2 separate regions of the Homo sapiens genome follow, and region 1 is linked to region 2. Evidence: fine-mapped expression QTL. Tissue or cell type: whole blood. Region 2 holds a variant in brackets; the other region holds the start of a gene. All regions are shown on one strand. Distances are from middle to middle.

Region 1 (15,963 bases), 23 kb before region 2:
TCAAATTAAAACCAATAAACCTGGCAAAGAATTGACAGAGCTGGTGATATTTATGGCACAGATTGGTCACTGTTACCCAGAACATCTAAGTAACTTTCCTCAAGAGCTAAAAGATCTACTTTCCTACAATTATACTGTACTGTCTTGAATCAAAATCATCTAATAACATTTTACAAAGCTTTGATCTTGCTGAGAAGTATCATATCCATCCATCAAGTTTGCTAGAGCTCTTTTTTGAACTTCCAAGTTGCCATAATAAGCTTTTGAGACTTTACATACTCATGTTGTGACTGATAGCAAGAATATAACTGTAAAACACAAGAATAAAGTGGATATAGTACTGCAGAATTTCATATACATCGTGTTAAGAGACAGCAATGTAACTGCAGCCAAGATATCTTTGGATGTGATGACTGAACTCTACAAGAAACATCCGGACTGATGCCAAAACTGTCAATGTCATCACAACTGCATGTTTTGAGATATTGGTTGCCACCTTGACATTCTTCCTAGGATAAGATGAAGAAGAGAAACAAATAGGACAGACTCAGAATCTGAGGATAAAGTGACAAGAGACCTACAAGTGCAGTATGTCACTGGGAAGAGTGGCTCCAAACACAAAACACTGAAAAGGTTATGAAAAGTGCCCAGGAAACAAAAGAAGAAAAAACTCACAGTGTTTAACTTTTAAGCTATTAGCTTTATTCATGATCCTCAAAGTTTTACCAAAACACTCCTGAAGCACACAGCTAGAAATCTCTAAGCAGAGGTTTGAGTTAACATGATGCTCATAAATCTTATCTCCAGATTGGCAGAAATTCATAAGCCCTCTAACTTCTATGCCTTTGGGCAAAAGTTTCTGCTGCTGCACCACAGAGAAGTAACAGAAATCACTGTTTGCTAAACATGCATTTCATCACCTGTTAGTCCCAGAGATCACTCAGTTATTGCTCATGACTGTGACCATCCATTATGTTATGGACAAGAACTTTAGGGAAGACATGACAGTCCAAATCAGTGCTATAAGAGGTAATAGCTCAATGTCCCCTAGCCATGACAGAAGAACTTCCTCAAGACCTGTCCCAGTATAAAACACACAAGGATAAGAATATGATGCTGTCTACTATAACTGTGATTCAGTTCTTCCAAATCCTCAGATGATGCAGAATTCCAGGGTAAGCTGACAGAGGCCCCAGTAAAATCAACAGTGCAAGAATATGGCCAGGGACAATGGCTCCTGCCTGTTAAATCCAGCTATTCAAGAGGCTGAGGGAGGAGGATCGCTCGAGGCCAGGAGTTCAAGACCAGCCTGGACAACATGGCAAAACCCTGTTTCTACAAAAAATACAAACATTAGCCAGGCATGGTGGTGCATGCCTGTAATCCCGGCTACTTGGGAAGCTGAAGTGGGAGGATCACTTGAGCCCATGAAGCGGAGGTTGCAGTAAGCTACGATTGCACCACTGCACTCCAGTCTGGGCAACAGAGTAAGACGCTGTAACCAAAAAAAAAAAAAAGAAGGAAAAAAGAAAAGAGAAAGAAAAAGAGAAGGCTGAAAATGATAAAGATGGGTGGGGAAGCACCAGTCTCAGTGAGGAGGAGGGTGCTGCTGGTGAATCTGTTGACAAGTAGAAACTGCAAGAAATCTCCTAGAAGCTGAACAGCACCCATGGAGGAGTGAAAAGCCAAACTAAACGATGACTTCTAGAAAATCTGCATGGCTCAACTAAGGAAAAAATTCAGTGCTGCCCCCAGGGAAAGCCCAAGAGGAAATGTATTGAAATAGTGATAAGGAGCAAGTAATTTTTTCTAACATTGATGACAGTCATAAAAAGCCAAAGTCTGACAAGGAGACATGACTAGCAACTGCAATGGCTGGACAGACCAAAAAGAATTTATGAGGAAGAAAACCAAAATGAATCATTTTCCAAATCCAGAGATAAAGAGAAAAAAGAAGAACTTTGATGATTAGGTATAGCCAGAATGTCCCGTCAAAAAAAATAAGCATTCCTTTGGGGAAAAGCTGCTGCCACTATGAGATACACTTAAAAAAAAAAATAGAAAAATAAAAAGAGAGAAAAAGTAACATCCAAGCCAGCCTTCCATTCCCAAAATAAATTGTCATTAATCTGAAAATTAGTAAATCAAGAATGTTTACATTAGAAAGTCCAAAAGCACTATATCCTGAAAACCACCAAAAAAGGTGAATGACTGCTGAATGACGGGTTTCGTCATTTTTTTTTTTTTTTTTTGAGATGGAGTTTTGCTCCTGTTGCCCAGGCTAGAGCGCAGTGGTGCAATCTCGGTTCACTGCAACCTCCACCTCCCAGTTTCAAGCGATTCTCCTGCCTCAGCCTCCTGAGTAGTTGGGATTACAGGCGCGCGCCACCATACCCAGATAATTTTTTTTTTAATATATTTTTGGTAGAGAGGGGGTTTCATTCATGTTGGCCAGGCTGGTCCCGAACTCCTGACCTCAGGTGATCCACCTGCCTTGGCCTCCCAAAGTGCAAGGATTACCGACGTTAGCCACCACCCTCAGCCCACTTTTTTTTTTTTTTAAGAGACAGAGTCATGCTGTGTTGCCCAGACTGGTCAGAGTCATGCTGTGTTGCCCAGACTGGTCTCAAACTCCTAGCCTCAAGCAATCCTCCCACCTCAACCTCCCAAGTAGCTGGAACTACAGGCGCAAGCCACCACTGGGCTTGATCCCATTTTTGTAAAAAATAACTCTCGGCCAAGTGCAGTGGCTCATGTCTGTAACCCTAACACTTTGGGAGGCTAAGGTGGGAGGATCGCTTGAGCCCGGGAGGTCGAGGCTGCAGAGCCATGACGGCACCAGTGCACTCCAGCCTGAGATACAGAGTGAGATCTTAAAAAAACAAAACAAAAAAAAAAAAAAAACTGCAACACAAAGAATAAGCCCTATGTAAACTATAGACCAATAAATAACAACATATTGATATGGGCTCATCAAATGCAATAAATGTGCCAAATTAATGCAAGATGTTTGCAATAGGAGAAACGAGGGAAGGGAAGGGAATATGGGAACTTTCTGTGCTATCGGCTCAAATTTCTGTACATCTAAAGCTGCTAAAAAAAAGTGTAATTTTTAAATTCTGAATATGCAGACAAATCTGCAAATAATTACTTGTATATGCACACAAAGAGAGGTGAAAAGACCTATATCAAACTGTTGCCCCTGGTTATCTACAAAGGATGAAAACTGGAAACTAGCGCATGAGAAGGAATTTTTTTACATTATACAGTTGGCCCTCCATATCCATGGGCTCTTATGTCTGTGGATTCAACCAAGCTTGGATCCAAAAAGTTTAATATAGCATCTGTATTTGAAACATGCAGACTTTTTTTTCTTGTCTTTATTCCCCAAACAATACAGTATAACAACTATTTACATAGCATTTATATTCTATTAGGTATTATAAGTAATCTAGAAATGATATAAAGTATTTGGGAGGATATGCACAGGTTATATGCAAATACTATGCCATTTATATCAGAGATTTGAGCATCTGTGCATCTTGATATTCACCAAAGGTCCTAGAAGCAGTCCCTACAGACACCAAGGGATGACAGTATATCTCTGGACTGTCTAAACTTTCTACACTGAGCAATAATGTAAGTAGAGGCTCTGTAGCATATTGTTAAGAATTTGGGTTTCTCAAATCAGACTGCATGAAATCAAATCCTAGCTCCACCATTTGCTAGCTGATAAACTTCCAACAGTTACTTAATTTTTCTCCTTGCCTTAGTTTCCTCACCTGTAAAACAGAAATCATAGTATACACTCACAGAGCTGCCACAGCAATTAAATAATTTCATACACGTAAAGTAGTGGAAATTGTCTAGTACATAGTAAGTGCTCAATAAATGTTAACCAGCATCTTCATTACCAAGCATTTATTATTCCTGGATTTTCTTTTTAAATCTTGACTGGTAAGACTAATCATGAAAACCCGGTTCATAAGCCCCTTTCTAGAAAGACCTCCAATGCAGAAAATACAAAAGCAATCAAAATCCAAATACAAATAATGAAATACTTCTTAAAAAAGCAGATTACAGGGCTGGGCACGGTTGCTCACACCTGTAATCCCAGCACTTTGAGGGGTGAGGCAGGTGGATCACATGAGGAGTTCGAGACCAGCCTGGCCAACATGGTGAAACCCCGTCTCTACTAAAAATACAAAAAAAAAATTGGCCGGGCTTGGTGGCGCACACCTGTAATCCCAGCTACTAGGGAGGCTGAGGCAGGAGAATTGCTTGAACCCAGGAGGCAGAGGTTGCAGTGAGCCAAGATCGTGCCATTGCACTCCAGCCTGGGCAACAAGAACGAAACTCCGTCTCAAAAAACAAAATGAACAAAAAAAAAAAAAAGCAGATTACAAACCAACATTTATCAATTTGAGTTCATTTATATAAAAAATAATCACCAACAAATTCTATAATCACAGAAAAAAAGCCCCAAGTGGTGTACTTGTAAATAACTTTTACTTTCTCCTTTACAATTTTCTGACTCATTTAAATTTTCAACATTGACTATGTATCATTTTTAATGGAGCTCGGCAAACTTTTTATATTAAGGTCCACATAGTAAATAAATATAAGGTGTTACAGGCCACATGGCTCTCTGGCACAACTACTCAACTCTGCTGCTGTACCCCAAAAGAAACTACAGACAATACCTAAACGACTGCATATGGCTATGTTCTAATAAAAACTTTTTTCTTCCTCTTTTTTTTAAGACGGAGTTTCGCTCTTGTTGTCCAGACTGGAGTGCAATGGTGCAATCTTGGCTCACTGCAACCTCTACCTCCCGGGTTTAAACGATTCTCCTGCCTCAGCCTCCCGGGCAGCTGGGATAACAAGAGTGCGCCACCACACCCGGCTAATTTTTGTAGTTTTAATAGGGACGGGGTTTCACCATGTTGGCCAAGCTGGTCTCAAACTCCTGATCTCAGGTTATCTGCCCGCCTCGACCTCCCAAAGTGCTGGGATTACCAGCGTGAGCGATCGCACCAGGCCTAATCAAATCTTTATTTACAAAAAGAGGCAACTGGCAGGACTGGGCCTGCAGGCTTTAAAATCTGTCAATCCCTGAAATAAAGAATAAAACAAAATTATTTTCATTTTAGGAAACAAAATGTGATTTATACTAAAAAAAAAAAGTGCACCAGCTAAATTGATACTATTGATAGAAAAAACCATTTATTTATAAATTCATACAAGGAGCCTAGGGATAGAAAAAAAAAACAAACTCTCTTTTAGGCTCTGGAAATCCTACTCCCATTCCTAGTGTCAAGTGAAAAGAGGAAATCTGCTAAGCAGACCAAAGTCTAGATAGGAACGTATACTGGAGGACAGACAGTTACAATCAGAAGTTAAAAGAAATATGCCTTTCACATTTAATTTGCAATTTTTTCAAATTTCATAATTCACCAACAAGCAGCTGCCACATGTGTGGAAATCTTTACTGATGAAATAATTTTAGTTGCAGATCATCACAATCAACACTCTGACAACAAATTTATCAGAACGGATGAAAACATCTAGGAATTACCTAAGAGTCGTTTAAGGAGACATAAGGGTGGCCTTTGATAAGAGGTCACTTCAAACTTTCAGAACTGACAAGACGTATAGCCTCCCCCCAAAAAATAATGCTATGGGTAGATGGATGCTTTTTTCTGAAGGAATTTTTAGCATTTCATTTGGAAAAGTTCTGTGATCAAATAATGCTAAATGTTATGACAGCTTTCTTGGCGTTTAAAGGGATTCTCTGGGTGAGGGGAAGGGGTGATAAAAAAAAAAAAAGTCTGCTTTTGGAACAGAAATGGGGGACAATAACCAAGGCTCAGAAACCCAGAGTCAAAAAATTAAAAGAACATCTTATTTTAAAAAAAAAGTCAACAACCTGCAATGAAGTCACCGTACCCCCATAAAATCCCAACTGTGCATTTAAATCTTTCTACCAAAATTCACTTTTGGACCATCTTATGAAGTTGTCAAAATTTCAGAGGCAAACGCTTAAATCAAGATCAAAAGCCAGGAGGAAAAAAGAGCTAACAGTTTCCAACCCAAACTCTCTCCGAGCCCCCTAAAAACTGATTTATAACCCTGTCATCGGTAATTTTAGAAGAAGCGAACACTGACGGACGGGGGCTTGGGAAAACAGGACTCCAGGTACCAAGCAGGCTGCCTGACGCGCCACCTGAAAAAGGTGAGGGAACTCTTCCCCACCCCAGTCACTGTGAAAGTAGCGCTGAGAGAGCCCATCCCAAGCCTCCACCAAACAAATTCCTAGAAGTGATAAAAACAGACAAGAGACGAAGAGGGGCGGGCAGATCCTCTCCGCGGGCAGGGAGCTGGAGCAACTGCACCCGAAGGTGAGCAGAGGGCAGCAGGCTCCGACCCTCCGCCGCGAAAGGCGAGGCGAGGGGAACAGCGGGCGCCGGACTCCTCCGACAGCGGTCGCAAGGAGGGCGGCTCCAGGTCCCCACACGGCCGACCCTCAGGCCAAGGCGCGCCGGGCGGCAGGTCAGAGTTAGGAATCAAGTTGCGGGCCGGGCCGAGAGCGCGCTCTCCCGCCCGCGCCAGGGACATTCGCCCCTCAGCTCTCACCTCCCCCCGACCCCAAGCTCTCCCTCTGCGCCCAGGAAACGGCGCCCACACTCCAGAGACCCTCACCCGGAGCCCGTCGCCGCCTCACCGCGTGTCTCGGACTTCTTGGGAGCCACCGCTGAGGGGAGGGGGGAGGAGGGGGGAACGGAGGAGGGAGGGGGCCAAGCCCGGTGTAGCCGCCGCCGCTGCCGCCGCCGCGATGCCGCTTCTGGAATCGCGCTCTCGCCGCCGCGACAGCGACCGCCGCCGCCGCGTCTCCCCGCCCCCACGACCGCACGTCGCCGTGACGCGCATCGCACGAGGCGGTTCGAGCCAATAAGACCACACGCCGTGCGCAGCCGCGCTGTCCTAAACCGGAAGCCGCCCCTCTGACCGCTCTAAAACCTGGGTGCATCGTGGGAGCTGTGGTTCGGCCAGGAACTTAGCGAAAACTATACTGGGTGTTGAGGGCCGGAGGAGCGTGCGCTCCTTAGGCGCTCACACAACTCCTCGGAGTTTTTTCTCCCACCGAAAAAGGAAGCAATTTGGAGCTGAGGAGGAGGGGGCCGCCCCGGCTCGCGGATGCTTTTCGCAGTCTCTATGGATACTGGCTACACACTTTGGGCAAGAGCCAGAATTTGAGGATTTAGGCTGGATCGTGTGTCTCTGCCAAGGGCTGATAGGATGCTGAGCGTCGTCTGTGAAGACTGCGGAAAGAAATCCAAAAGCATTAGCCCAGTTTTGCCCAGAGCAATAGTGTTTGCCTTTTATTACCTTATTAAAGATTATGATTTATGCTCTACCACTTCTATTTTTTTTAAAACCCAGTCACTCTTAAAATACATATAATTCAGAGCGATTTTTAAAATGATGTTAATGTAATGGTATATCAGAACCTACTTAAGCACTAAATACCTGCGTCCATTTACCCAGAATGAGTAAGTAATTTTCCACAAGTCATCTTTACGTTGAGTTCTAACTTCTTAGAAGCCAAGAACAGATTTGGTTACGTACTTATTCTATAAGAAAAGTGAATATAAGAGTTAGTCTGCGTAGAAAAATAGTTCTTTACATTCAGTAGGAGGGGGAATTTATCACATTCTTAAGGCGTAAATGCCTTAACTATCAAAATTCTTGTTATTGACTAAAGGAAATCCATACGATTTAGGGAAAGTCTGTGCCCACGGCTTACTGTCCTTACCTTTGGACCACAGCAAGAGATAACAAAGGGTGCAGGGAAAAGCTGACAGGTCTTGAGGGAGCTGGAGTCGGATATATGACGAAAAAAACAAAAATACAGAAGTCTTCATTATGGAAATGTAAGTTTTAAAAAGTAAAGCTACTAAAATCACAAAGAACATGATTAAGATGGCAATAATACAGAACTAAGGCCCACTCATTTAAGCTTGAAAGAGATAAAACTAGTAGAAATTAAAATTAGGAAATAAATGTTAAAGGAACTAATTTCCTCCAAGGAGTGGTTTACATTGAAAATATAATTTTTTTAAGTTTACATAATTTGTGAAAGACATAATAATAATGACTTCTATGTTCCCAGGTAAAGATGTAAAGCTTTTGAGGTTGAAATCAAGGAAGACAATTGTACACCTCCTCAGCACATCAGAAACAATACAGGCATTTCTGGATTGTGAATTTGACCCGTTATACCAACTCACATAGAACAGAGATAAGAAGTATAAGATTCTTAGGCTTAATAAAGAGTCTACTAAAGGTGACAGAACTAGAGCGAAAAAGATAATTTTCTTAAAAAGAGATTCTTCAAAGATCTCCAATCTTTCCTGCATCCCTTTCTCTTAAAGACTGGTTTCCAGGCCAAGCGTGGTGGCTCACACCTGTAATCCTAGCACTTTGGGAGGCCGAGATGGGCAGATCACTTGAGGTCAGGAGTTCAAAACCAGCCTGGCCAACATGGCGAAACCCCGTCTCTACAAAAATACAAAAAATTAGCCAAGCATGGTCGCGCGTGCCTGTAATCCCAGGTACTCTGGAGGCTGAGGCAGGAGAATCACTTGAACCTGAGAGGCAGAGGTTGCAGTGAGCTGAGACCGTGCCACTGCACTCCAGCCTGTGTGACAGAGCAAGACTCTGTCTCAAAAAAAAAAAAAAAAAAGATTCTGGTTTGACAAAACGAAGGGCTTTAAGAAGCTACCTCTGGAACAGTTCACCGTGTGCTGAACCAGATGAAAGACAGACTTACCATTTCCCTAAAGTTTCACATCTTGTTCTCGGTTACCTTGATCCCATTCACATATCACTACTGCCAGTTCCTGATGCTTATATAGTGATGAAACAAACCACATCATTTCCTCAAAATACCCACACCTCCTTAACTATTGAGGATGTTGCCACTGTCCCTGACCTGAGCACCTGAGGAACATTCCCCTGATCCCCACATCCATAAGGCTGGCTTCACCCTTAACCCTTATCTAAATGTCACCATTAAATATTCCAAAGCAGAATTTTCAGGCCCTCTCCCTGACCATACTTCAGTTACTAAACTTTATATATTGTCTTCTGATTAGCTGTCCAAAAAACAAGAAAAACTCAGTAAAATTCTCTAACCTCCAGCATCAGCTGCGTATCTTAGAATTTCTGTTCTCTCCATTCTTGGGGTATCACACTACTCCACAGGAGGGTAGAGCCCTTTATCTTCTGCAGCACCAAAAAAAGATTCCCTTCCACCCCTATCCCACATGCCAGTCACCAGTGACCCAACAGTACCCTGTGGCTCAACTAGTCTGATGTAGTCATCTCTGCAATTATCAGATGTTATTGAAAAGGATGGCGCATCACTAGGTGAGTCACATCCATAATCCAGTTGTGGCTCCAGTGACACTATAGTATATTGCTGACATGATGGACAGAGTTAAACTCCATTGTGATATCCAAGGCAATAGCCAATGAGATTCGCATATGTATCTAAGGCATGGTAGTGCGCACCTGTAGTCCCAGCTACTCCAGAGGCCAAGGCTGGAGGATCACTGGGCTCAGGAGTTCCAGGCTGCAGTGAGCTATGATGGCACCACTGCACTCCAGCCTGGGCAACAGAGTGAGACCCCATCTCTAAAAAAAAAAAAAAAAAGAAGAAGAAGAATATGTATCTAAAGCTAAAAGCAAATGAACGTTCAGCTTTAAATTTTTTTTTTTTTTCATAAAAAGAGAGTCTCACTATGTTGCCCAGGCTGGTCTCAAACTCCTGGGCTCAAGCAATCCTCCTACCTCCCAAAGTGCTGGGATTATAGGTGTGAGCCATTGTACCGAGCCAACTTTCAAATTCTGAAAGAAAAAATACCCTAGATCCCAGTGCAAATTTAAACTTGAGTTTGAAACTGGTTTATATTGCTTCTCTTATAGAGAAAAGACAAGCTATCATTTTTCTTATCAGAATCGTATCTATTTTTAAGAAGGAAAAAAGACAAATTACTTCGCCAGTGAAAACCAGAATTAGAGTGTTCTTTCAGAGACCTGTGTCTGTGAGTTTAAAAAAAAAAAATTACAAAGGGAAATTAACAGCTTCGTTATTACAAAATACTTAATTCTAGCCTAAACTCTTCTTTTCAGCTCCAATATTTATCAGCTTTCAAAATATAAACATTAGAACTGAGGGGGAAATCTGGACAACATAGAAGATACACCATAAAAAAGATAAATCAAAAGAAAGGGCAAGGAATGTCGTCACATCAGTCCCTCTGGTTGTCTCATATAGTGTCCATAGAACAGTGAAATCCAGCCAGCTATTTAGGATTCAGTGGTGTTAGATGCTTTGCAAATAGTCTAGTAATCTACTTGAGAAAATTAGAGGGAAATACATAAATATCTGTATTCCATCTTAATTGCAATTAAACGAATCACTGATATCAAATTGTTATGTTGTTTAAAACTACATTAATCAGGGCCGGGCGCCATGGCTCACACCTGTAATCCCAGCACTTTGGGAGGCCGAGGCGGGCGGATCATGAGGTCAGGAGATCGAGACCATCCTGGCTAACACAGTGAAACCCCATCTCTACTAAAAATACAAAAAAATTAGCCAGGCGTGGTGGCAGGCGCCTGTAGTCCCAGCTACTTGGGAGGCTGAGGCAGGAGAATGGTGTGAACCCGGGAGGCGGAGCTTGCAGTGAGCAGAGATGGCGCCACTGCACTCCAGCCTGGGCGACAGAGTGAGACTCCGTCTCCAAAAAAAAAAAAAAAAAACAAAACAAAACAAAAAAAAAAACTGAAGAGAAAGACCAGTATAAACACTCCAATAATTACATAAATTACATTCGCAGCTCCTCAAACGCAGATTAGATAACATAGTCCTGCAGATTGAACTTAAGATAGAACATCATTACTGGCTGTGCTGCTGACAAAGGCATTGTTTATCTATGGCTTATGCATTAGCTCTTGTTAAGCTTTGATACCTTCATCAATAAAATGAAGATGTCGGTGAATACATGTTTTAGATGGACAGAAAGGATAAATACAACTTTAGGAATGTACTTGCCGGTGGGAAGGGGTGAAGAATAAGCCTGGGAGCTATGGAGAGATCATCTTTATCTGTAATATTTCATTTCTTCTATATGAAAAAGATGAAGCAAGTAACAAAACATTTAACATTTATGAATCCTAGGTGGTATGTACATGGACATATATTAGAGGCTTCTCTGAACTTTTTTAGTAGTTGAGAAAAACAACTTTATTGAAGTATATTTTATATAAAATGCACCCTCTTTTTAAGTGTACAGTTCAAATGAGGTTTGAAAAATGTATACTCCCGTGGAAGCATAACCTCAGTCAAAATATACAACATCTCCAACACCCCCCGCAATCCCCCTGTGCCTATTTGGAGTCAGTATTTCCTCTCCCAAGCCTGGCTCCAAGCAACCACTGATATTCTTTCTGCCACTATAGAATGCTTTTGCCTCTTCTAGAATTTCCCATTAATGGAATCGTGCGATATGTACTCTTTTGCTCTGTCGACTTTCTCTCAGCATGGGGTTTTTGAGTTTCATTCATGCTATTGCATTCATCATAGTTCGTCACTTTCCGTTGCTAGGTAGTATTCCATTTGTTTATCCATTCACCTATTGATGAATGATTGGGTAATTTCTTGTTTTTGTTGTTGTTGTTTTGTGAGACAGGGTCTCACTCTGTCACCCAGGATGGAGCGCAGTGATGCAGTCGTACCTCACTGCAGCCTTGATCTCCTGAGCACAAACAATCCTCCTATATCAGCCTCCCAAGTAGCAGGGACTACAGGCATGTGCCACCATGCCTCGCTAATTTTATTATTTTTTGTAAAGACAGGGTCTTGCTAAATTGCCCAGGCTGTCCTCAAACTCTTGGCCTCAAGCGATCCTCCCATGTTGGCCTCCGAAAGTGCTGGGATTACAAATGTGAGCCACTGTGCCCAACGTCTAGTCCCTGATTGTTATAAATAAAGGTATTGTGAACATTTATGTACAAATCTTTAGAGGACATGTGTTTTCATTTACTTTTGATAAGGGGGTGAATTAGCAAAATCATATAAATTTATGTTTAACTTTATGAGAAACTGCCAAATTGTTTCCCCATTTTACACCCTCACCAGCAATATATGAGATTTCCAGTTGTTCCACATCCTTGCTAACCCTTAGTATTGTCAAATTTTTTATTTTAGCTATTCTAGTGGGTATGTCAGTGTTATCTCATTGTGGTTTTAATTTGCCTTTTTCTGATTGTTAATGATGTTGAGACTTTTCATGTGTTTATTGGCCTTTCTTATATTTTCTTTTGTGATGTGTCTGTTCAAACTTTTTACCTATTTTTTAAAATGGGCTGTTTTCCCTCTTATTATTGAGCCATAAGTGTTCTTTTTTTTTTTTTTTTTTTTGAGACAGAGTCTCACTTTTTCACCCAAGCTGGAGTGCAGTGGTGCAATCTCTCCTCACCGCAACCTCCGCTTCCTGGGTTCAAGCAATTCTTATACCTCAGCCTCCCAAATAGCTGGAATCGCAGGTGTGTGCCACCACACCAGGCTAATTTTTGTATTTTTAGTAGAGACAGGGTTTCACCATGTTGACCATGCTGGTCTCGAACTTCTGACCTCAAGCGATCTGCCTGCCTCGGCCTCCCAAAGTGCTTGGATTACAGACGTGAGTCACCATGCCTGGCCATCAGTGTTCTTTATATATCTTTAGATACAAGTATTTTGCCAAAGTAAAAGGCAAGCAAAAAATTCTTTTAAGAATGCCAGGATTACATAATATTTCAAAGTTATAAAGGGTTGTTTCCATTTAATCTCTCCTTTGCTGTGAGAATGAAAATAGAAACACAAAGTTTTCATTACCTTAAAAATAGAGAGTAATAAAGATGCGTATTAGAAGCTACAACTACGGAACAACAGGAAATACAGGTGAAAACAATAAAGAAAAATGTCATTTCTTAAGTAATTTAGAAGCACCCAGTAATTAAAAATCTGTCATCTTTTTATTAAGAAAAAATTCAAGACAGCATCTGTTCTACTCAGTGACTGCTTATGCGCTCACCCACACACACAGAACTGTAAGCCAAAAAAAGAGCATTTTATTTGTTGTGCTAAAATTTTAAATCCATAATCTAAAGAGGTTTATTAACCTTGCAATATCTCAATGATGTATAGCTAAACTCAGAACTCAGGACCAGGTTTAGTCAGGATAGTTTGATATAAATACTTTCATCAAGTTATACAGGATGAATCCCTGAGCCCTTGAGGTCACAATCTGGTGAAGTGACAATTTGCAGAAATAAGTTGCAAGGACTGGCAGGCATTTACGGTGGAGGAAGAAGAACTGATCTGGAATTGAATTCCAATGATTGTGACTAAATAATCACTGAGGTAGGGGTTGAGATTGTTCTCATAACTTTGTTTCTCAAAATTTTTTTTTCCTTTTCTTTTGGTTTAGATTAGAAGCAAAAGCAAAACTGGGTAGGAAAAGCAGGCTATAGCAAAAATAAAATTCTTAATGAAAAATCCAGACTATCAAAAGTCTTACTCCTTCCCCTCAAACTTTCTCTAATAATCTCATATGCCTTGGATGTCGTCAGCCAAGTCTAGCCACACCTGAGGTATTGCGGGCAGGCCCAAGACAAGCGTAAAACAAAAGAGGATAGGGGAGAAAGAGGAAAACAGAAAAAGAGTAAAAGAGCTCAAAGAAATGCTGCTAGAGATGCAACATAAGTGCTGTCAGTTGCCCATCTAGGAAAGCAAGCCGAACACTTTTAAAAGAGAATTGGGGCCAGGCACAGTGGCTCACTTTGAGAGGCAGAGGCGGGCGGATCACTTAAGGTCAGGAGTTTGAGACCAGCCTGGCCAACATGTCGAAACCCTGTCTCTAATAAAAATACAAAAATTAGCCAAGCATGGTGGCACACACCTATAATCCCAGCTACTCCGTGGCTGAGGCACAAGAATTGCTTGAAACCAGGAGGCTAAGGCTGCAGTGAGTTGAGTTCCCACCACTGTACTCCAGCCTGGGCAACAGAACCAGACTCTGTCTCAGAAAAAAGAAAAGAAAAGAAAAGATAATTGGCCAGGCATGGTGGCTCACACCTGTCATTCCAGCACTTTGGAAGGCCAAGGCAGGAGGATCACTTGAGCCCAGGAGTTCAAGACCAGCCTGGGCAGCATAGTGAGACTCCATCTCTACAGAAATTAAAATAAAAAGCCAGGCATGGTGGCTGGCACACACCTGTAGTCCCAGCTACTCAGGAGGCTGAGGTGGGAGGATCACTTGAGCCCAGAAGATCGATACTACATTGAGCTATGATCATGCCACTGCACTCCAGCCTGGGTGACAGAGGGTGACTCTGTCTCTTAAAAAAAAAAATGAGCCAGGCGCAGTGGCTCATGCATGTAATCCCAGCACTTTGGGAGGCCAAGGTGGACAGATCACAAGATCAGGAGATGAAGACCATCCTGGCCAACATGGTGAAACCTTGTCTCTACTAAACAATACAAAAAATTAGCCAGGCATGGTGGTGCACCTGTAGTCCCAGCTACTCCGGAGGCTGAGGCAGGGGAATTGCTTGAACCTGGGAGGCAGAAGTTGCAGTCAGCCGAGATTGCGCCATTGCTCTCTAGCCTGGGCAACAGAGCGAGACTCCATCTCAAAAACAAACAAACAACAAACAAACAAAAACCCAACATTGCTCTTCCTTCTTCCCAAGCAAATGAAGAAAATAGGTGTGAGATTCTCAAAAGTCAACATCTAGAGAGCTTATTAAGAATGTTAATTCCAGCTGGGCACGGTGGCTCACACCTGTAATCCCAGCACTTTGGGAGGCTGAGGCAGGAGGATCACTTGAGTCCAGGAGTTCGAGACCAGCCTGAGCAACATAGTGAGACCCTTTTAAAAATAACCAGTGTGAGCACACCTGTAGTCCCAGCTACTTGGAAGGCTGAGGTTGGAGGTTTGCTTGAGCCCAGGAGATTGAGGCTGCAGTGAGCCATGATCAAGCCACTGCACTCCAGCCTGAGCAACAGAGCAAGATCCTGTATTTAAAAAAAAAAAAAAAAAAAAAAAAAAGGCAATTCCCAGATATTATCCCAGAGATTCTGGTAGGCCCCAAAAGTCAGATTTTTTTTTTCCAGTCAGATTCCAAAGATTCTGATTCGTGGGCTCCATGCAGGCCTGGCTTCCTAGGTGGATGACCTATGCAGTTAGTTGCTCGGGGCCCTGTACTCGAAAGTGCCCTATGCTTGGGTTTTGTTTTTTGTGTTTTTTTTTTGAGACCACATTTCGCTCTTCTTGCCCAGGCTGTCATGCAATGGTGCGATCTCACCTCACTGCAACCTCTGCCTCTGAGGTTCAAGCGATTCTCCTGCCTCAGCCTCCCAAGTAGCTGGTATTACAAGTATGCACCACCACACCCAGCTAATTTTTTGTATTCTTAGTAGAGATGGGGTTTCACCATGTTGGCCAGGCTGGTCTTGAACTCCTGACCTCAGGTGATCTGCCCACCTCGGCCTCCCAAAGTGCTGGGATTACAGGCATGAGCCACCGCGCCTGGCCCCTATTCTTGGTTTGATGCTCTGTTGTTACTGTCTTGAAATTTTTAATAACTTTTGAATAAGAGACCCTTCATTTTCCCTTTGCACTGGGCACTGCAATTTATGTACTGCAATGGGAGTTAGACCTTAGACTTCAGTCTTTTACTGCGGAAAATATTCAGACAATTACCTACATATCTATTGGATTTTAAGCCTGATACACAGCATCTGAATTAATTCAATTTATACAATTTCTACTTGGCACTTTGGAATCAGGGGATCCTTGAATGAGCTTTTTCCAGAGGGAGAGCCCAGACAGAGAAGTACCTGTTGTT
Region 2 (15,963 bases):
AGGAGGCTGAGGTGGGAGAATTGCTTGAACCTGGGAAGCAGAGGTTGCAGTGAGCCGAGATCACGCCCCTGCACTCCAGCCTGGGTGACAGAGTGAGACTCTGTCTCAAAAAAACAGAAATGATGGAGAAGTTCATCATGGAGTGGCATGCAGGTGGCTTCTGAGGTATGGTAATGTTCCTTTGGGTACATTTTATTGCTATTCTCTAAACTGTGCTTTTTTTTCTTGCCATTCATTCATTAAATATTAAGAGCTTACTCTAGGTCAGGCCTGTGCTAGGTGTTGGAGATACAACAATGACCAAGTTAGACAACGTGCTAGTTCTCATAGAGGACATTGTAGTGAGGAGTTTGGTGTGAATTAAAGATTCATGAATTCCAACTACTTTTTTTTTTTGCAGAAATAGACAAAGTGATCCTGAAACTCACATGGAAAAGCAAGGACCCAGAATAACCAAAACAATCTTGAAAAAGAAGATAAAAGTTAGAGGGCTCACACTTCCCAATTTCAAAACTTACTTTAAAGCTACACTAATGAAGACAGTGTGGTAGTGACATAAAAATAAACATGTATATTTCAATGCAACAGAATGGAGAGTCCAGATGTAAGCTGATACATCCATGGTCAATCTCTGACAAGAGTGGCAAGACCGTTCAGTGGGGAAAGGTCAGTCTTTTCAACAAATGGTGCTTGGACAACAGATATACATATGCAAAATAGTGAATTTAGACCCCCTAAATTCACACCTTCACACTATATACAAAAATAAACTCAAATGATCAAAGACCTAAATGTAAGAGCAAAAACTATAAAAATTCTTAGAAGAAAATATAGGGGTAAATATTTGTGATATTGGAATAGGCAATCATTTCTTAGGTATAATATCTAAAATGCAAGCAACCAAGGATAATTAGATAAATTAGGTTTCACCAAAAGTAAAGGCTGTTATGTATCAAGAAAGCGAAAAAACAACCCAAAATGGGAGAAAATATTTACAAATCATGTATTTAATAAGGGTTTTATATCTAGAATATATAAAGAGCTCCTATACCTCAACAATAAAAAGATAAATAACTCGGCTGGGTGTGGTGGCTCACACCTGTAATCCCATTACTTTGGGAGGCTGAGGAGGGCGGGTCACAGGTCAGGAGTTCAAGACCAGCCTGGCCAACATGGTGAAACCCCATCTCTACAAAAATATAAAAATTAGCCAGGCATACTGGCAGGCACCTGCAGTCTCAGCTACTTGGGAGGCTGAGGCAGGAGAATCACTTGAACCTGGGAGGCAGAGGTTGCAGTGAGCTGAGATTGTACCACTGCACTCCAGCCTGGAAGACAGACTGAGACTCTGTCTCAAAATAAATAAATAAATAAATAAATAACTCAATCTAAAAATGGGCAAAAGATTTGAATAGACTTTTCTTCAAAGAAGATCTATAAGAGGGCATGAAAAATGTCCAATATCATTAGTCATTAGGGAAATGAAAGTCAAAATCACAACAAGATACCACTTCACAGCTGGGCACAGTGGCTCACGCCTGTAATCCTAGCACTTTGGGAGGCCGAGGCAGGCAAATCACTTGAGGTCAGGAGTTCAAGACCAGCTTGGCCAACATGGTGAAACCCCGTCTCTACTAAAAATACAAAAATTAGCCAGGCGTTGGGGCAGGCGCCTGTAATCCCAGCTACTCAGGAGGCTGAGGCAGGAGAATCGCTTGAACCTGGGAGGTAGAGGTTGCTGTGAGCTGAGACTGTGCCACTGCACTCCAGCCTGGGCGACAGAGTGAGACCCCATCTCAAAAAAAAAAAGAAAAAAAAAAGGCAAATTATATGGGATGTAAATTTTATCTTAGTAAAAAACAAAATAACAGAAACAACACAAAAGATTAATGATATCTCACCCTGTCAAAGCAGGAAGGGATCTTAAATGATTGTCTAGTCAAACTGCATTATTTTAGAGAGAAAGAAACCAAGGTGCAGAGGAAGGAAGTGACTTATAAAAAGTGACACAGCTCGGGCCTGGCGCGGTGGCTCACACCTGTAATCCCAGCACTTTGGGAGGCCAAGGCGGGCAGATCAGTTGAGGTCAAGAGATGGAGACTATCCTGGACAACATGGTGAAACCCTTTCTCTACTAAAAATACAAAAATCAGCTGGGCGTGGTGGTGCACACCTGTAATCCCAGCTACTCCGGAGGCTGAGGCAGGAGAATCACTTGAACCCGGGAGGCGGAGGTTGCAGTGAGCTGAGATCACGCCATTACACTCCAGCCTGGGTGACAGAGCAAGACTCCATCTCAAAAAAAAAAAAAAAAGTGACACAACTCGTCAGCTGCAGGGTGAACATTGAGCCCCAGGACCTTTTACTTTTTTCTATATCCTTTAACATGTAAAATTTCAAACACATACAAAATTTCAAACACAAACACATACAAAAATGTCAAACACATACAAAAATAGAGCTAGCTCCCTGTATCTATACTCCAGCTTTAATAGTTATTAGTACACAGCTTTTTTTTGTTTTTTTTTTTTGAGACGGAGTCTCGCTGTGTCCCCCAGGTTGGAGTGCAGTGGCGCGATCTCAGCTCACTGCAAGCTCCACCTTCCAGGTTCACGCCATTCTCCTGCCTCAGCCTCCCGAGTAGCTGGGACTACAGGCGCCCGCCAACACGCCCGGCTAATTTTTTGTATTTTTAGTAGAAACGGCGTTTCACCGTGTTAGCCAAGATGGTCTCGATCTCCTGACCTCGTGATACGTCCGTCTCGGCCTCCCAAAGTGCTAGGATTACAGGCGTGAACCACCGCACCCGGCCCACAGCTTTAATAATTATTAAATAAGTATCAGTACACAAATTCAATTTTTCTTTTTTTTTCTTTTTAGACTGGGTCTTGCTCTGTCGCCCAGGCTGGAGTGCAGTGCACAGACTTGGCCCACTGCAACCTCCGCCCCCAGGGCTGAAGCAATCCTCCCACCTCAGCCTCCCAAGTAGCTGGGATTACAGGCCCACACCACCACGTTCAGCTAATTTTTGTAGTTTTAGTAGAGACAGGGTTTTGCCATGTTGCCCAGGCTGGTCTCCAGCTCCTGGGCTCAAACAGTCCACCTGCCTCAGCCTCCCAGAGTACTGGGATTACAGGTGTGAACCACTGCACCCAGCCACAACTTTAATAATTATTAAATAATTATTAGTACACAACCAATTTTATTTTATCTCCACCGTCACTCACTTTCTCCCCTCCCAGATTATTCTGAGATGTATCTCAGACATCATAGTATTCATCCACCAATACTGCGATATGTGCATAGTTTTTCATTTATTTTTCATGTATGATCTGTTTCTCATACACATACACATGCACACAAAAGAAAAAAAAAAGAGTGATCCCTCCAAAAAATGGAAAGCAATGGTGAGCAAAGAAACTAATAAAGCTTTAAATAAATCTAAACATGCATTCGCTGTATAACTGTATGTTACATTGATGATGGATATGTAAAGATATGAAGTATCACTGCAAAATAGCATGTTAGATAGGGTGGTGGTGTATGAAGTACTAAGTTCCTTGAGCAAGACTCCATCTCAAAAAAAAAAAAAAGTCAGGGTGTGGCAACAGTGTAATTGCTGGTGGCCTGACCATTTATGGCAGGATCTCAGCAGGTATGCAGAGCTACTATTCCGTGGGGAGGGAGTTGATGACAGCTAGTCAAGGTATGACAACTACATTCTAGAAGCTTAGAAAAGTTCCTGCTTTGGTAAGACTTGTTGATGGCACCTGAGCCACAGCAGTGGGGCTTAGGCTGAAGTTTCTGATCCCTGTTGTGGACCTGGGCAAGGGCCTGGTGGTGATGGGGAGCTTGCTTGGTATATGTCCAGCCTTAAAAGCTAGAAAAAGCAACGGCGGGAGCAGTGATGTCTGTGAAGCTGTATTGATAAAGTTGTTTTTTTTTAAAGGTGTAAAAGTAAACACATCTGAATCTCAGGGAAAAGCTACGCTACTTCAACTTCAGGATTCAGTCATTCCTGCTTGTTCAGAACCACAGGGTAAAATGAGCACTGCACTTACAAAGGGCTAATCACAAGCGAGGGCACTGTGGCGACCTTTCACCAGGTGTCAAGGTGTGGCGGCCTCTGTAGACCCATGACTCAGAACACCAGGCCAGGCACCATCTGGGAACACATCTGCGACTTCATATGAAAAAAAGGTGTAATTTAGTTGAAGCAATTAACTTAAAGTTGGTGAGTAAAGCCTTTTCGAATGAGCTGTGAGTGAGTGAGGGGGAGAGGATGCCCGAGGGGCAGTGTGGGGTTGCCTGCAGTGGAAGCGAGGCTGGCACTCTGCTACTGAGTGCCCAGGGAGAAGGAGGGGAGGACGCAGGCCAAGAACCTTTGGCCCCCAAGCAAGGCCTCCAAGGAAAACCAAAGGGCCGAGCTCGAGCTCCCCTTTCCTCCTGGTTTATTCTCTTTCCCTCAGGAGCCTGCCGGACTCCACCCTCAAATTCTCAGCCTGAGAAAGTAATATGATATTGGCACTCACCTCTCCAAATTCTTCCAGAAAGAGAGTCAGATTAGAGTGTGACAGGAGCACAGTACGCTTCTGGTCTGAGCTTTTGGAGGCCATATGACTCTAGAATGAGCCCGCCTGGTTTTTGTGAATGAGTCTAACTAAAATGAGTCCTCTTATTTTTTCACCAGAAAAAAACAAGATGTGTCAAGGGGCTCTTTGGGCTGTGAAAGGGCTGTATCCCAGCAACAGCTCATGATGTTTCTGACAACTTATTAGCATCTATTTGAGGGTGATTAAAAACATAATGTGGGGCCGATTGCGGTGGCTCACGCCTGTAATCCCAGCACTTTGGGAGGCCGACACGGGTGGATCATGAGGTCAGGAGTTTGAGACCAGCCTGGCCAATATAGTGAAACCCTGTCTCTACTAAAAATACAAAAAAAATAGCCTGGCATGGTGGCAGGTGCCTGTAGTCCCAGCTGATCAGGAGGCTGAGGCAGGAGAATCGCTTGAGCCCAGGAGGTGGAGGTTGCAGTGAGCCAAGATCACACCATTACACTCCTGCCTGGGTGACAGAGCGAGACTATCTCAAAAACAAAAAAAAACGAAAAAGCCATAATGTGTAAAGGATTCAAATTGTACTCAATTATTATAATAGCCTACTTCTCCCCATTCCCATTCCTCCTCCCTAAACCAGAGCTCCTGTTTGCCAGGCAAATAAGCTACAACTAAAATAAAAGGTCTTTTTAGACAAGGATCAAGCCAGATTAGGAATATTATAACTAGGCTTTCCAATCAATATCAGGACTTTCCATTTCTCTATCTGAGTCTGAAACTAATTACACTTCCAGGTCGTGGGGCCCCAGGTGCTGCTCTCGTGGCACCACTCGTGGGGCTCTAGGTCCAGAGGACAGTCTCTGCTGGCTGAGGCTGGAGGGACCATCTCATTGGTAGAAGTGGCATAGCATGACTTGGCCACTGGACATCTTGGCTGTCACCCAGACTTATTTCAAAGGCGAGACTAAAATAAAGAGGGCTGATCAGAGTGGGGGCAATCAGAGATTGGGCCATCGCTAGAGTTACAAAAGCAGCGCTGGCTACTGTAGGGCAGCAGCGTCATCTCCTCGAGATAGGACTCCCTCTGCCCCAGTTCTGTTCACCGTCCAAAGACCAGGGCCCTCCCTGAAGCCCAGCACTTGAGAAATGCTCGCTCTCACGTATTATGACTCTGGCTTTGGAAAGAAATTCAGCAAGGGTACTGGTTGAAAGGTCAAAAAGTGGTGAAATGCCATCTGCCCAAACGGAAGCAAGGGGTCGCTTGGATTGGGTAAAGGTTTCTTTTGTGGTTTTAAGCCGTTGGGTTGTTTTTCGTTTGTTTTTGTTTTGTTAGAAAGCACTGTGTCTGTCTGGAGGTCGAAGGGTCGGGTGGGTGTCTGCAGTGCGGCTTTTCTCCCTTGGCCAGTGGGGAAACAAAGTGGGTTTACTGGCCATTTCCGCTTTGTGTGAAGGAAACCTGAGATTCACTGCCTCCAGCACATGGGAGTTGTCTGTTATTTTTAGTTTAGTTCTGTTGTTGTTATTAGGTGTTTTTAAAACATATGTAAGTGTGTATCAAAGTTGTATTTCACAGTGTTGGCAGAAAATTTACAGGAAAAAGACAGAGGAGGGTTTAGTTGAAGATCAGGAGGAGGTAGTAAGACTGGTTAAATGTCTAGTGAAAGGTTTTAGGCATACCAGGATTGTCAGTCAACTGGGAGGGTAACTCTTTTATTTTTAAAATTGTGGTAAAATATGTATAAAATAACATATACTATTTTAACGATTTTTAAGTAGGCCTGGGCACAGTGGCTGACACCTGTAATCCCAAGCTTTGGGAGGCTGAGATGGGAGGATCATTGGAGGCCAGGAGTTTGAAACCAGCTTGGCCAACATAGCAACTTCATCTCTAAAAAAATAAAAATAAAAATAAAAGGTTTTTTTTTTTTTAATTATCTGGGCATCGTGGCACACTGGGCAAGTAGTTCCAGCTCCTTGGGAGGCCGAGGCAGGAAGATCACTTGAGCCTAGGAGTTCAATGCTATAGTGAGCTCTGATCACACCGCTGCCCTCCAGCCTGTGTGACAGAGCAAGAACCTGTCTCTAAAAAAATAACAATTTTAAAATGCTCAAGTGAACAGTTCTGTGCCATTAAGTGCACTCACATTTTTGTGCCACCATCACCACCATTCATCTACAGAAACTTTCTTTCTTTCCCAACTGAAACTCTGTCCCCATTGAACACTAACGCCCCATCCTGCCCTGCCAGCCACTGGTGGCCACCGTTCTGCTGTCTCTGAATTTGACTATTCGTAGTACCTCATATGAGTGGAATCGTAGAGAGAGTAGTCGTCCTTTGTGACTAGCTCATTTCCCTTAGCGCAACGCCTTCAAAGTTTATTCACGTGGGTAATTCGTTCTTTACGGTTTGTTTTTCATCGTTTGGACCCTCAGTTTTTGTTTCTTGTTGAGGATTTGGTAGTCTCAGATACTGAGGATAGGATTGCAGGCTGAAAGTCTGGCCAGGAGGCTTCCTGATCCTTCTCCTCACCCTAAAATATCTTGGCCACACTGGATATATATTTTTTTCTTTTTGAGATGGAACCTCCCTCTGTTGCCCAGGCTGGAGTGCACTGGCGCAATCATGGCTCACTGCGGCCTCAACCTCCCAGGCTCAAGTGATCTTCCTGCCT[C/T]ACCCTCCCAAGTATCTGGGACTACAGGCATGCACCACCATATCTGGCTAATTTTTTTTTTACTTCTTGGGAGAGATGGGGGTCTCACTTTGTTGCCCAGCCTGGTCGTGAGCTCCTGGCCTCAAGCGATGCTCCCTCCTCAACCTCCCAAAGTGCTGGGAGTACAGGCATGAGCCACCACGCCTGGCCCACACTGGACATTTCTTAGTGTTTTTTCCTGCCTGGGTCACTACCTACTTGGTGTGTTAATAGCTCTCAAGGCTCTTAGCTTGGCCCACATTGCTTGCTCCTCTGGGCAAACCATGAATATTTCCAAAGCAGACCAGCCTCTCAGGGGACTCTCTGTCTCTGTCTGTCTCTCTCTGCCTCTGTCTCTGTCCGTCTCTGTCTCTCTCTCTCCCTGTTTCCATCTCTGTGTGTCTCTGTCTCTCTGTGTGTGTGTGTCTCCATCTCTGTCTCTGTCTCTCTCTGCCTTTCTCTCCTCCCTCCTCTCAGCATCAGTATTTACCCACTGGCCTCAGGCAAAGGCTTCAGAGAAGGGAAAGCAGCCTTTTCTTTCCCCTTCCCGTCCTCTCAGGCACAGGAGGCATGCCTTCTGTTTGCTTGTTTTTATAATCATTCTTTGTAAGCAGAACATTCAAATGGCAAAATATATAAGCAGTAAGAACGTGCAATGAAAAACCAGTCTCCCCACCCACTTCCTTGTTGCCTTTTGCCACACCAGCCACTGTGACCTTGACTGTCTTTCTAGGGACATTTACACATAAACAAGCTCAGGGGGCCTCTTTTTACACAAAAGATATCATCTTATACCCACCCCCCTGTATCATGCTTTTTGGAAAAAATACATAAAAATAAGAGTGTAATAAATGAAGTCTCCACCAACCAGAATTGATAAAAAACATTTAGTATAGCTGTTTTTTTTCTTTTTTTACATAAAAATAAGTAAAATGCTACAGATGAAGTCTGAAATATTCTGTGGCCTTTGTGGTCAGTCCTGCATCCTTCCTCCCATCCTTAGAGGGGAGCGCTACTGGAAATTATTTACACCCTTTCTGTAATTTTTTATATGTCATATACATACATATATACATCTGTGAACAATATATAGCATCATTTTGCACAATAATCATTTTTAATATCCCTTCCCCCTACTGGCAGGCATTCAGGTTCTTTTAGACTTTGCTCCTCAAATAATGCCGCAGGAAATTTCTTGTGCCGATATCTTTGTGCACATGCGTGAGTGTATCTGTAGGATAATTTTGTAGAGGCGGGCTTACTGGATCAAAAGATATGTGCATTTGATAGTTTCAAAGAAAGGGCACCAATTTTTACTTCCACCAATAATGCATGGAACACCTATTTCTTCACATCTTCTTTCACATACAAATTTATCAAAATTTTTAATTTTTATTCATCTAATACATAAAAAATACCTCTTATACTTTGAATTTATGTATTGGAAACCATGTATTGGTAATGTATTAGAAATATAATAGAATTATTTCTTTTATTATAAGTGAGGGTAAGCACCTTCTCATGTGTTTGAAAGCCAGGCAGGCCGGGGGTGGTGGCTCATGCCTGTAATCCCAGCACTTTGGGAGGCCGAGGTGGGTGGATCATCTGAGGTCGGGAGTTCGAGACCAGCCTGACCAACATGGAGAAACCCCGTCTCTACTAAAAATACAAGATTAGCCAGGCGTCGTGGCACATGTCTGTAATCCCAGCTACTTGGGAGGCTGAGGCAGGAGAATCACTTGAACCTGGGAGGCGGAGGTTGCAGTGAGCTGAGATCATGCCATTGCACTCCAGCCTGGGCAACAAGAGCAAAAACTCTGTCTCGAAAAAAAAAAAAGAAAGCCAGATATATTTCTTCTTCTGCGGTTTTTTAAGGTCTTTTGCCCATTTTTCTTTGGGGCTGATTATCTTATTCACTCTTAAGTGTACTTTGCATGTGAAGAAAATTAACTGTCATATGTGTTGCAAATATTTTCCCAGTTAATTACTTATGACTCAGCTATTTTTGCCACATGGAAATTTTTAATTTTTATGAAGTCAATTTTATCAATACTAATGTTTTTAAGTGGTGATACATTTACTGTTTTCTTCTAATTTTCTTCATTTCTCCCCTACTTCCCATTTCTAACTCAAATCATACCTCAGATTCCTGGGTCTAGGGTGAGATCAACAGCTGGAAGCCACCACAGAGTTAATCCAGGTGAACCCTGGAGGTTCAACATAACCCCGAAGGCTCCAGGGGCCCTTGACTTAACTTTGCCCTACTGTATATTTATAGGGTATCCTAAATCTGCCCTAACCACTGACACTTCCTGGAGTTCTTTCAGTCTGAAGAAACTTCTGGTTCCAATTTGGTCTCCTTAAAGACCTCTGCCCCAGGCAGGTCTGCATCCTTGGAGGCACCATGGCAGGGCTGGCACAGGGAAGCTGGGACCTTAGTGACCTACTGCTGCTTTTTCATTCTTTTCACTCCCTGTGGAGCCGGGTTTCTTACTGGCAGAGAAGGGAAAGGGAGAAAACAAGAATGCACTCATGCTGTCGGCCTGGACTTGGAGATTATCAGTGTGGACTCATGCATTCCAATACACAAAGATGGAGAGAGAGGTACAGGTGTAAAAGTGTGTGTAATATTTTGAATCTACTTTTGTGTGTTCTTAATTTTTATTATTTCATTCATTTATTTTTGAAACAGGGTCTTGCTCCGTTACCCAGACTGGAGTACGGTGGTGAGATCATAGCTCACTGCAGCCTCGACCTCCCGGGCTCAAGTGATCCTCCCACCTCAGCCTCCTGAGTAGCTGAGACCACAGGTGCGCACCACCACGCCCAGCTAATTTTTCTATGTTTTTTAGAGACACGTTTACACCATGTTGCCCAGGCTGGTCTCAAATTCCTGGGCTCAAGCGATCCTCCTGCCTCAGCCTCCCAAAGTGCTAGGATTACAGGCAAGAGCCACTGCGCCCGGCCTTGTGTGTCTTTAAATGTTTTTTGTTGTTGCTGTTTGTTTGTTTTTTGAGACAGAGTCTCCCACTGTCACCCAGGCTGGAGTGCAATGGCATGGTCTCGACTCACTGCAAACTCCGCCTCCCGGGTCAAGAGATTCTCCTGCCTCAGCCTCCCAAGTAGCTGGGATTACAGGTGCCCACCACCACGCCTGGATAATTTTTGTATTTTTAGTAGAGATGGGGTTTCACCATGTTGACCAGCCTGGTCTCGAACTGCTGACCTCGTGACCCACCTGCCTTGGCCTCCGGAAGTGCTGGGATTACAGGCGTGAGCCACTGTGCCCAGCCTTTAAATGTTTTACATGTACATCCTTGTCATCGTTTTCATTTAATTACTCTCCTCTAGTTTGTAAGGGCAGGGCCATAGTGGGCCAGTCCCAAGGCCATGGTGGGCCAGTCCCAGCCATTCTTTCCCCTTCTCTCTACCCGAACACAAATGTCTGCACAGAACACCATCATTCAGCCATTGGGGATTAAAAATTAAGATCGAGGAAAAAGCAAAAGAAAACAAGATCATTATTTGTCATTGAGGACTGGGTGGGCATTCCCTCATTCTTCTTGCCTTCCATGGTCCATCTCAGCAGCTTGACATTCTGCACCTTCTATTAGCTCGTGGCCCGGCTGCATCCTCCCTACAGACGTTTTACCCCTAAGCAGCCTCCTTCCTTCCTTCCTCCCTTCCTTTCCCCCTTCCTTCCCTCCTGTTTTCCTCCTTCCTTCCTTCCCTCCTTCCCTCCTGTTTTCCTCCTTCCCTCCTTTCCCTCCTTCCCTCCTGTTTTCCTCCTTCCTTCCTTCCCTCCTTCCCTCCATCCTTCCTTTCTTCCTTCCTTCCCTTCCTCCTTTCTTCCTTTTTTATCTTTCTCCTTTCCTTTCTTCCTCCTTTAATTCCCTCCTTCCTTCCTTCATCAAATGTTTGCTGCACTGCTAACAGAGTCCATGCTGTGCTTGGTGCGGACAATTCTGTAGCGAACAGTGCGACAGATAACTGGTGCTGCCTTCAGCAAGCCTACAATCTAGCAGGCAGCCTGCAGTGAATCGGCCACTACATAACTCAGCACCCTCTTCCAGAGGCCATCTCTCTCTCCAGTGGCCCCAACTGTAGCCGCTCTCGAGCCTCCGCCATCAAACTGTGTCCTTAAGAAAATCATTGTTTTCTCCCCACCAGAGGAGAGAGCCGCTAAGTGCTCTGACCCCCTTGCTTCCAGCACGTTCATACGAATTGGGATTTGGTGGCCTCACACGCATAGGCTCACGATCCTCACAGGGGACAGGGAAGACGCCACGATCTGCATTTTACCGACAGGAGGCGCAGGAACTTGCCGGAGATCGCAGAGCAGGTTCGTGCCCAGGTGGTGGGAAGCGACTCTCAGGCTGGGAGAGACACTGAAGGCCGCCCCGTCCAGCCAGTTGTTTTCCCCGGGGCTCCTGCTTCTGGACGGCCTTCCCAGACAGGAGGGCAGGCTGGGGCGGCCCTGCCTCCCAAGGGCCGCGCTGAGTGCCCAGTGCACCCCTTCACTCCGCACTCTGCCCCAGCGGACCCCCGGCTGCCTCATGTTCGCGGGCAGGTGCGCTGCGGGGCGGGGCACGGAAGAGCGGGCAGCCCCTCCCGGTTAGAGGCCCTCCTCCCGGCCAGGGCCTGGGCGATGCGCGATAAGAAAGGCAGGGTCCCCGTCCTTGCAGCTGGTGGGTGAGGGGCTAACCGAGCTTCAGGAAGCGCTGCTTGTGCCCTGAGGGAATCTCGCGGAGGGCGAGCGGAGCACACACCGAGTCCTCTCTCCCGACAGCGGACCTCTCAGGAGGGAGGCGGGAAGTGAGGAGGGGGAGGCGGGAAGTGAGGAGGGGGAGGCGGGAAGTGGGGAGGGGGAGGCGGGAAGTGAGGAGGGGGAGGCGGGAAGTGAGGAGGGGGAGGCGGGAAGTGAGGAGGGGGAGGCGGGAAGTGGGGAGGAGGAGGCGGGAAGTGAGGGGGAGGCGGGAAGTGGGGAGGGGGAGGCGGGAAGTGAGGGGGGAGGCGGGAAGTGGGGAGGGGGAGGCGGGAAGTGGGGAGGGGGAGGCGGGAAGTGGGGAGGGGGAGGCGGGAAGTGAGGAGGGGGAGGCGGGAAGTGAGGAGGGGGAGGCGGGAAGTGGGGAGGGGGAGGCGGGAAGTGGGGAGGGGGAGGCGGGAAGTGAGGGGGGAGGCGGGAAGTGGGGAGGGGGAGGCGGGAAGTGAGGGGGGAGGCGGGAAGTGGGGAGGGGGAGGCGAAGGGGCGGCGGAACCTCCGGAGGCGCAGCTCAGGCAGAGCAGGCCGCGGCCACAGAGGGCTGGGGCTGGGGGCGACAGGAAGTCCGGGAGGGGAGAGGAAGACAGCGGTGGGGCCGCGAGGCCGGGAATCAGGAATCTGGGCAGGGGCAAATTGGCCCAAGTCTGCAGTGTTCTTTAGCCAGCTCTGCAGTGGGAGAAAACAGGAGAGGGCTGGACAGCGGGCGGTGCAGCGGGGGAAGGGCGAGAGGATGCACGTGTGACTCGCTCTGCGCCCGCGGAGGTGCCCGTCCGCTGGCATGGCCCGCGGGGTGGGGAGTCGCTGCATACGGCCCCTGAAGGCAGCTCCCGGCGAGGGAGGCGGAGCCATTTCCCGAGGGCGGAGCTGCGGCCCCGCCCCCCGCCTCCCGCCGCCTCCCGCCTCCCCCCGCCCCCCGCCCCCCGCCGCCTCCCGCCTCCTCCCTGCCCCGCTCCGAGTCCGCCGCGAGGCCTTCGAGGGGAGAGGGAACTCGAGGCTGCTGCTGGGGCGGGGTTGGGGTGACTGGCAGTGGGAGAGCCAGGCAGGGGAGGGGCGAAGAGGAAGTCAGGGAGGGCACATAGCTCCGGGAGGGCCGTGCTGAGGCGGAGGGCGCAGCAAGGGTGGGGGTCGCAGTGGGCTGCAGGGGGATCGCTGAGCACGGAGGCTTCAGGTCCCGAAGGAGCGGTGGCGCGGTGACAGGGGCCCGGGCGCGGCTCAGCTCGCTGGCGGATGAGGGGCTGGGAGGAAGACGTCCATGCGCCCCGAACCTCAGTGCTTTGCAGAAGGGCCCCAGGGTGGGCGGAGGACAGGGACCAAAATGCAGAGAGGATGGTCCGGCTGGAGAGACGGGTGGGCGGAGGACAGGGACCAAAATGCAGAGAGGATGGTCCGGCTGGAGAGACGGGTGGGCGGAGGACAGGGACCAAAATGCAGAGAGGATGGTCCGGCTGGAGAGACGGGTGGGCGGAGGACAGGGACCAAAATGCAGAGAGGATGGTCCGGCTGGAGAGACGGGTGGGCGGAGGACAGGGACCAAAATGCAGAGAGGATGGTCCGGCTGGAGAGACGGGTGGGCGGAGGACAGGGACCAAAATGCAGAGAGGATGGTCCGGCTGGAGAGACGGGTGGGCGGAGGACAGGGACCAAAATGCAGAGAGGATGGTCCGGCTGGAGAGACGGGTGGGCGGAGGACAGGGACCAAAATGCAGAGAGGATGGTCCGGCTGGAGAGACGGGTGGGCGGAGGGCTGCAACAGTGGGGTGTGAAGACCCTGAGAGCAGCACCTCCCGCCCGCATGGGGCTGCCAGGAGGCGAAGAGCCTTTACCCAGAGGGTTTTCAACTGAATGACACTGTCAAAGAAAAGCCAGGATCCACTAAGGCAAGAAGTATTAAAAGTATTTTAGGGAAAGTCATTTAAAGCTCTATAACATTGTATTTTCATGGAATCTTCTAGATTCTTCCCCTAGAATCAGAGTTAGATTTTCCATTAAGTGAATGAAGCTCAAGTTTCAGGGCCTCTCCCTCGCCTTCTAAGGCCCTGTTCATAATTCCGTATTTGTAATTATTTAAACTGCCCCACCCTGATTATATAACTTTTAGGTCCCACAAAAGCTTAGCCAGTCTCTGCCTTAGAACTCCACGAGTTGGGAGGATGAACGAACTTCCACGTTTTGATTTCCAAACAATTTCCCTACCCTTGCATTGTTAAAAGATAAACAGGAATAAGTGTTCTGGCTGTGAGTGAATTTTTTTTCTTAACATGTTTTGGCCTGGATACTATCTGAAGGTGTTACCCAAGCAGTGGGGTGACTTTGCTGACGACACAGTTACTCAATACTCCCCAGCTCAGGGTGAAGGTTAGGTGGCACGTTGGCGGGACATGTGACTCACATGCGCAGGTGTGTTCCTTGGGAGGAAGGCTTGGAACAGGCACCTGTGTGTGCCCAAGTGTTTCTAGCAAACACAGGGACCTGAGTGTCTAAGCACAGGCCCACTTTACAGGGGTCTCCTGAGAACTCCTCCCCCTCCTGAGAACTGTGCCTTCCCAGCCAGAAGTCACTCATACAGAATGTTCCCAACTTATGAATGGGCATTGTTCTCAGAAAGAGAATTTGTAAGTCAGTTGTTTAGAACGGGAAGGCATCTCCCCAGATAAACAAGTGTATGTGTGATCTTTGTTATTCAGGAAAGCCTAAAAGAACATCTTGTGTCCCAGAAATCAAGGACTGTACAATGGGAACAGAAAACTCCAGCTGGTGGAATCATGTGGCCCTCAGAAAATGCCTTCCAACTTCTAGCCTGAGATCCTGGGAATCTTCTCCACTGTCACAGACCTTCTGTGAGAAGGGGGGACGCTTCCCAGCTCCACGTCCCTGATGTGGCTGCCATGTCCTGGGGCAGAGGCCAGTGAGGAGAAGCAGCTGGGTGTAGGCGGCCAGGCCCTGGGGGCTAGAGGGGGCAGAGTCCATTCCCAGAGCTCCTTTCAGAGTCCGCTCCCTGTCCATGTCCTCTGAGGGCCCAGGGGTGGGCCTCCTTGCCTTTGCCTTCTTGAAGTTTCCTTGGCCGGGAGCAGTGGCTCACGCCTGTAATCCCAGCACTTTGGGAGGCCGAGGCTGGTGGATCACTTGAGGTCAGGAGATAAGGACCAGCCTGGCCAGCATGGTGAAACCTCGTCTCTACTAAAAAAAAATACAAAAATTAGCCGGGTGTGGTGGCGCGTGCCTGTAATTCCAGCTACTCAGGAAGCTGAGGCAGGAAAATCGCTTGAGCCTGGGAGGCAGAGGTTGCCGTGAGCTGAGATCACGCCACTGCACTCCAGCCTGGGTGACAGAGTGAGACCCTGTCTCAAAAAAAAAAAAAAAAAAAAGTTTCCTAAGTCTTTGATTCTTAGGACAAAGTGGTAAACAGACTGGGGATTTAAAAAAAAAAAAAAAAGACTCCCATGTGATGGCGGGGTGGAAGGTGGAATGCTCACTTTTCAGGTACTGGCCTTCTCAGGAAAGACCAAGACCAACATAGAGAAGGATGGTGGATTTCTGGGTATACAAAAGACCAAACAAATCCAGATCATCAAGGTTAGACCCCTTGCATTTGTGGTTGGCTTCAGTTGAGATGATTCCCAAGAGCTTACATAATAAACTTTACTTTTTTAAAAAGCATATTTTCATTGATCTTGCCATGATATAAGCAAGCTATATCTTATACACTTATCTATATCTATGTAAGATATACCATTACCCTTTTCTTTTTTAATACAGGGTCTTGCTCTGTCACCCAGTCTGGAGTACAGTGGCTCGATCCTAGCTCACTGCAACCTCAAACTTCTGGGCCCAAGTAATCCTGCTACCTCAGCCTCCCAAAGTGCTGGGATTACAGGCATGAGCCACCATGCCCAGCCTCAATATTTTAAAAGTTTATATTTTACAAAAGGCTTTCACATCCATATGATTTAAT

What was found. PIP is the estimated chance that this variant, and not a neighbour inherited with it, causes the effect.
Region 1: it holds the start of ADIPOR2, and the variant in region 2 is fine-mapped to the expression of ADIPOR2 in whole blood (TOPMed, PIP above 0.99).

What each region holds. Positions count from the first base shown.
Region 1 is chr12:1,681,953-1,697,915 of GRCh38, reverse strand. ADIPOR2 (adiponectin receptor 2) reads right to left here and starts at 6,846. Exons shown (of 8, transcript NM_024551.3): 1 at 6,725-6,846. It also overlaps the pseudogene LOC100533654. RefSeq lists silencers at 6,544-6,633, 6,654-6,953 and enhancers at 6,452-7,030, 7,114-7,163, 7,184-7,343.
Region 2 is chr12:1,658,846-1,674,808 of GRCh38, reverse strand. MIR3649 (microRNA 3649) reads left to right here and starts at 14,429; the gene lies at 14,429-14,494. RefSeq lists an enhancer at 5,646-5,695 and silencers at 12,656-12,745, 12,836-12,935. The variant C/T (reference allele first, on the strand shown) is at 7,232.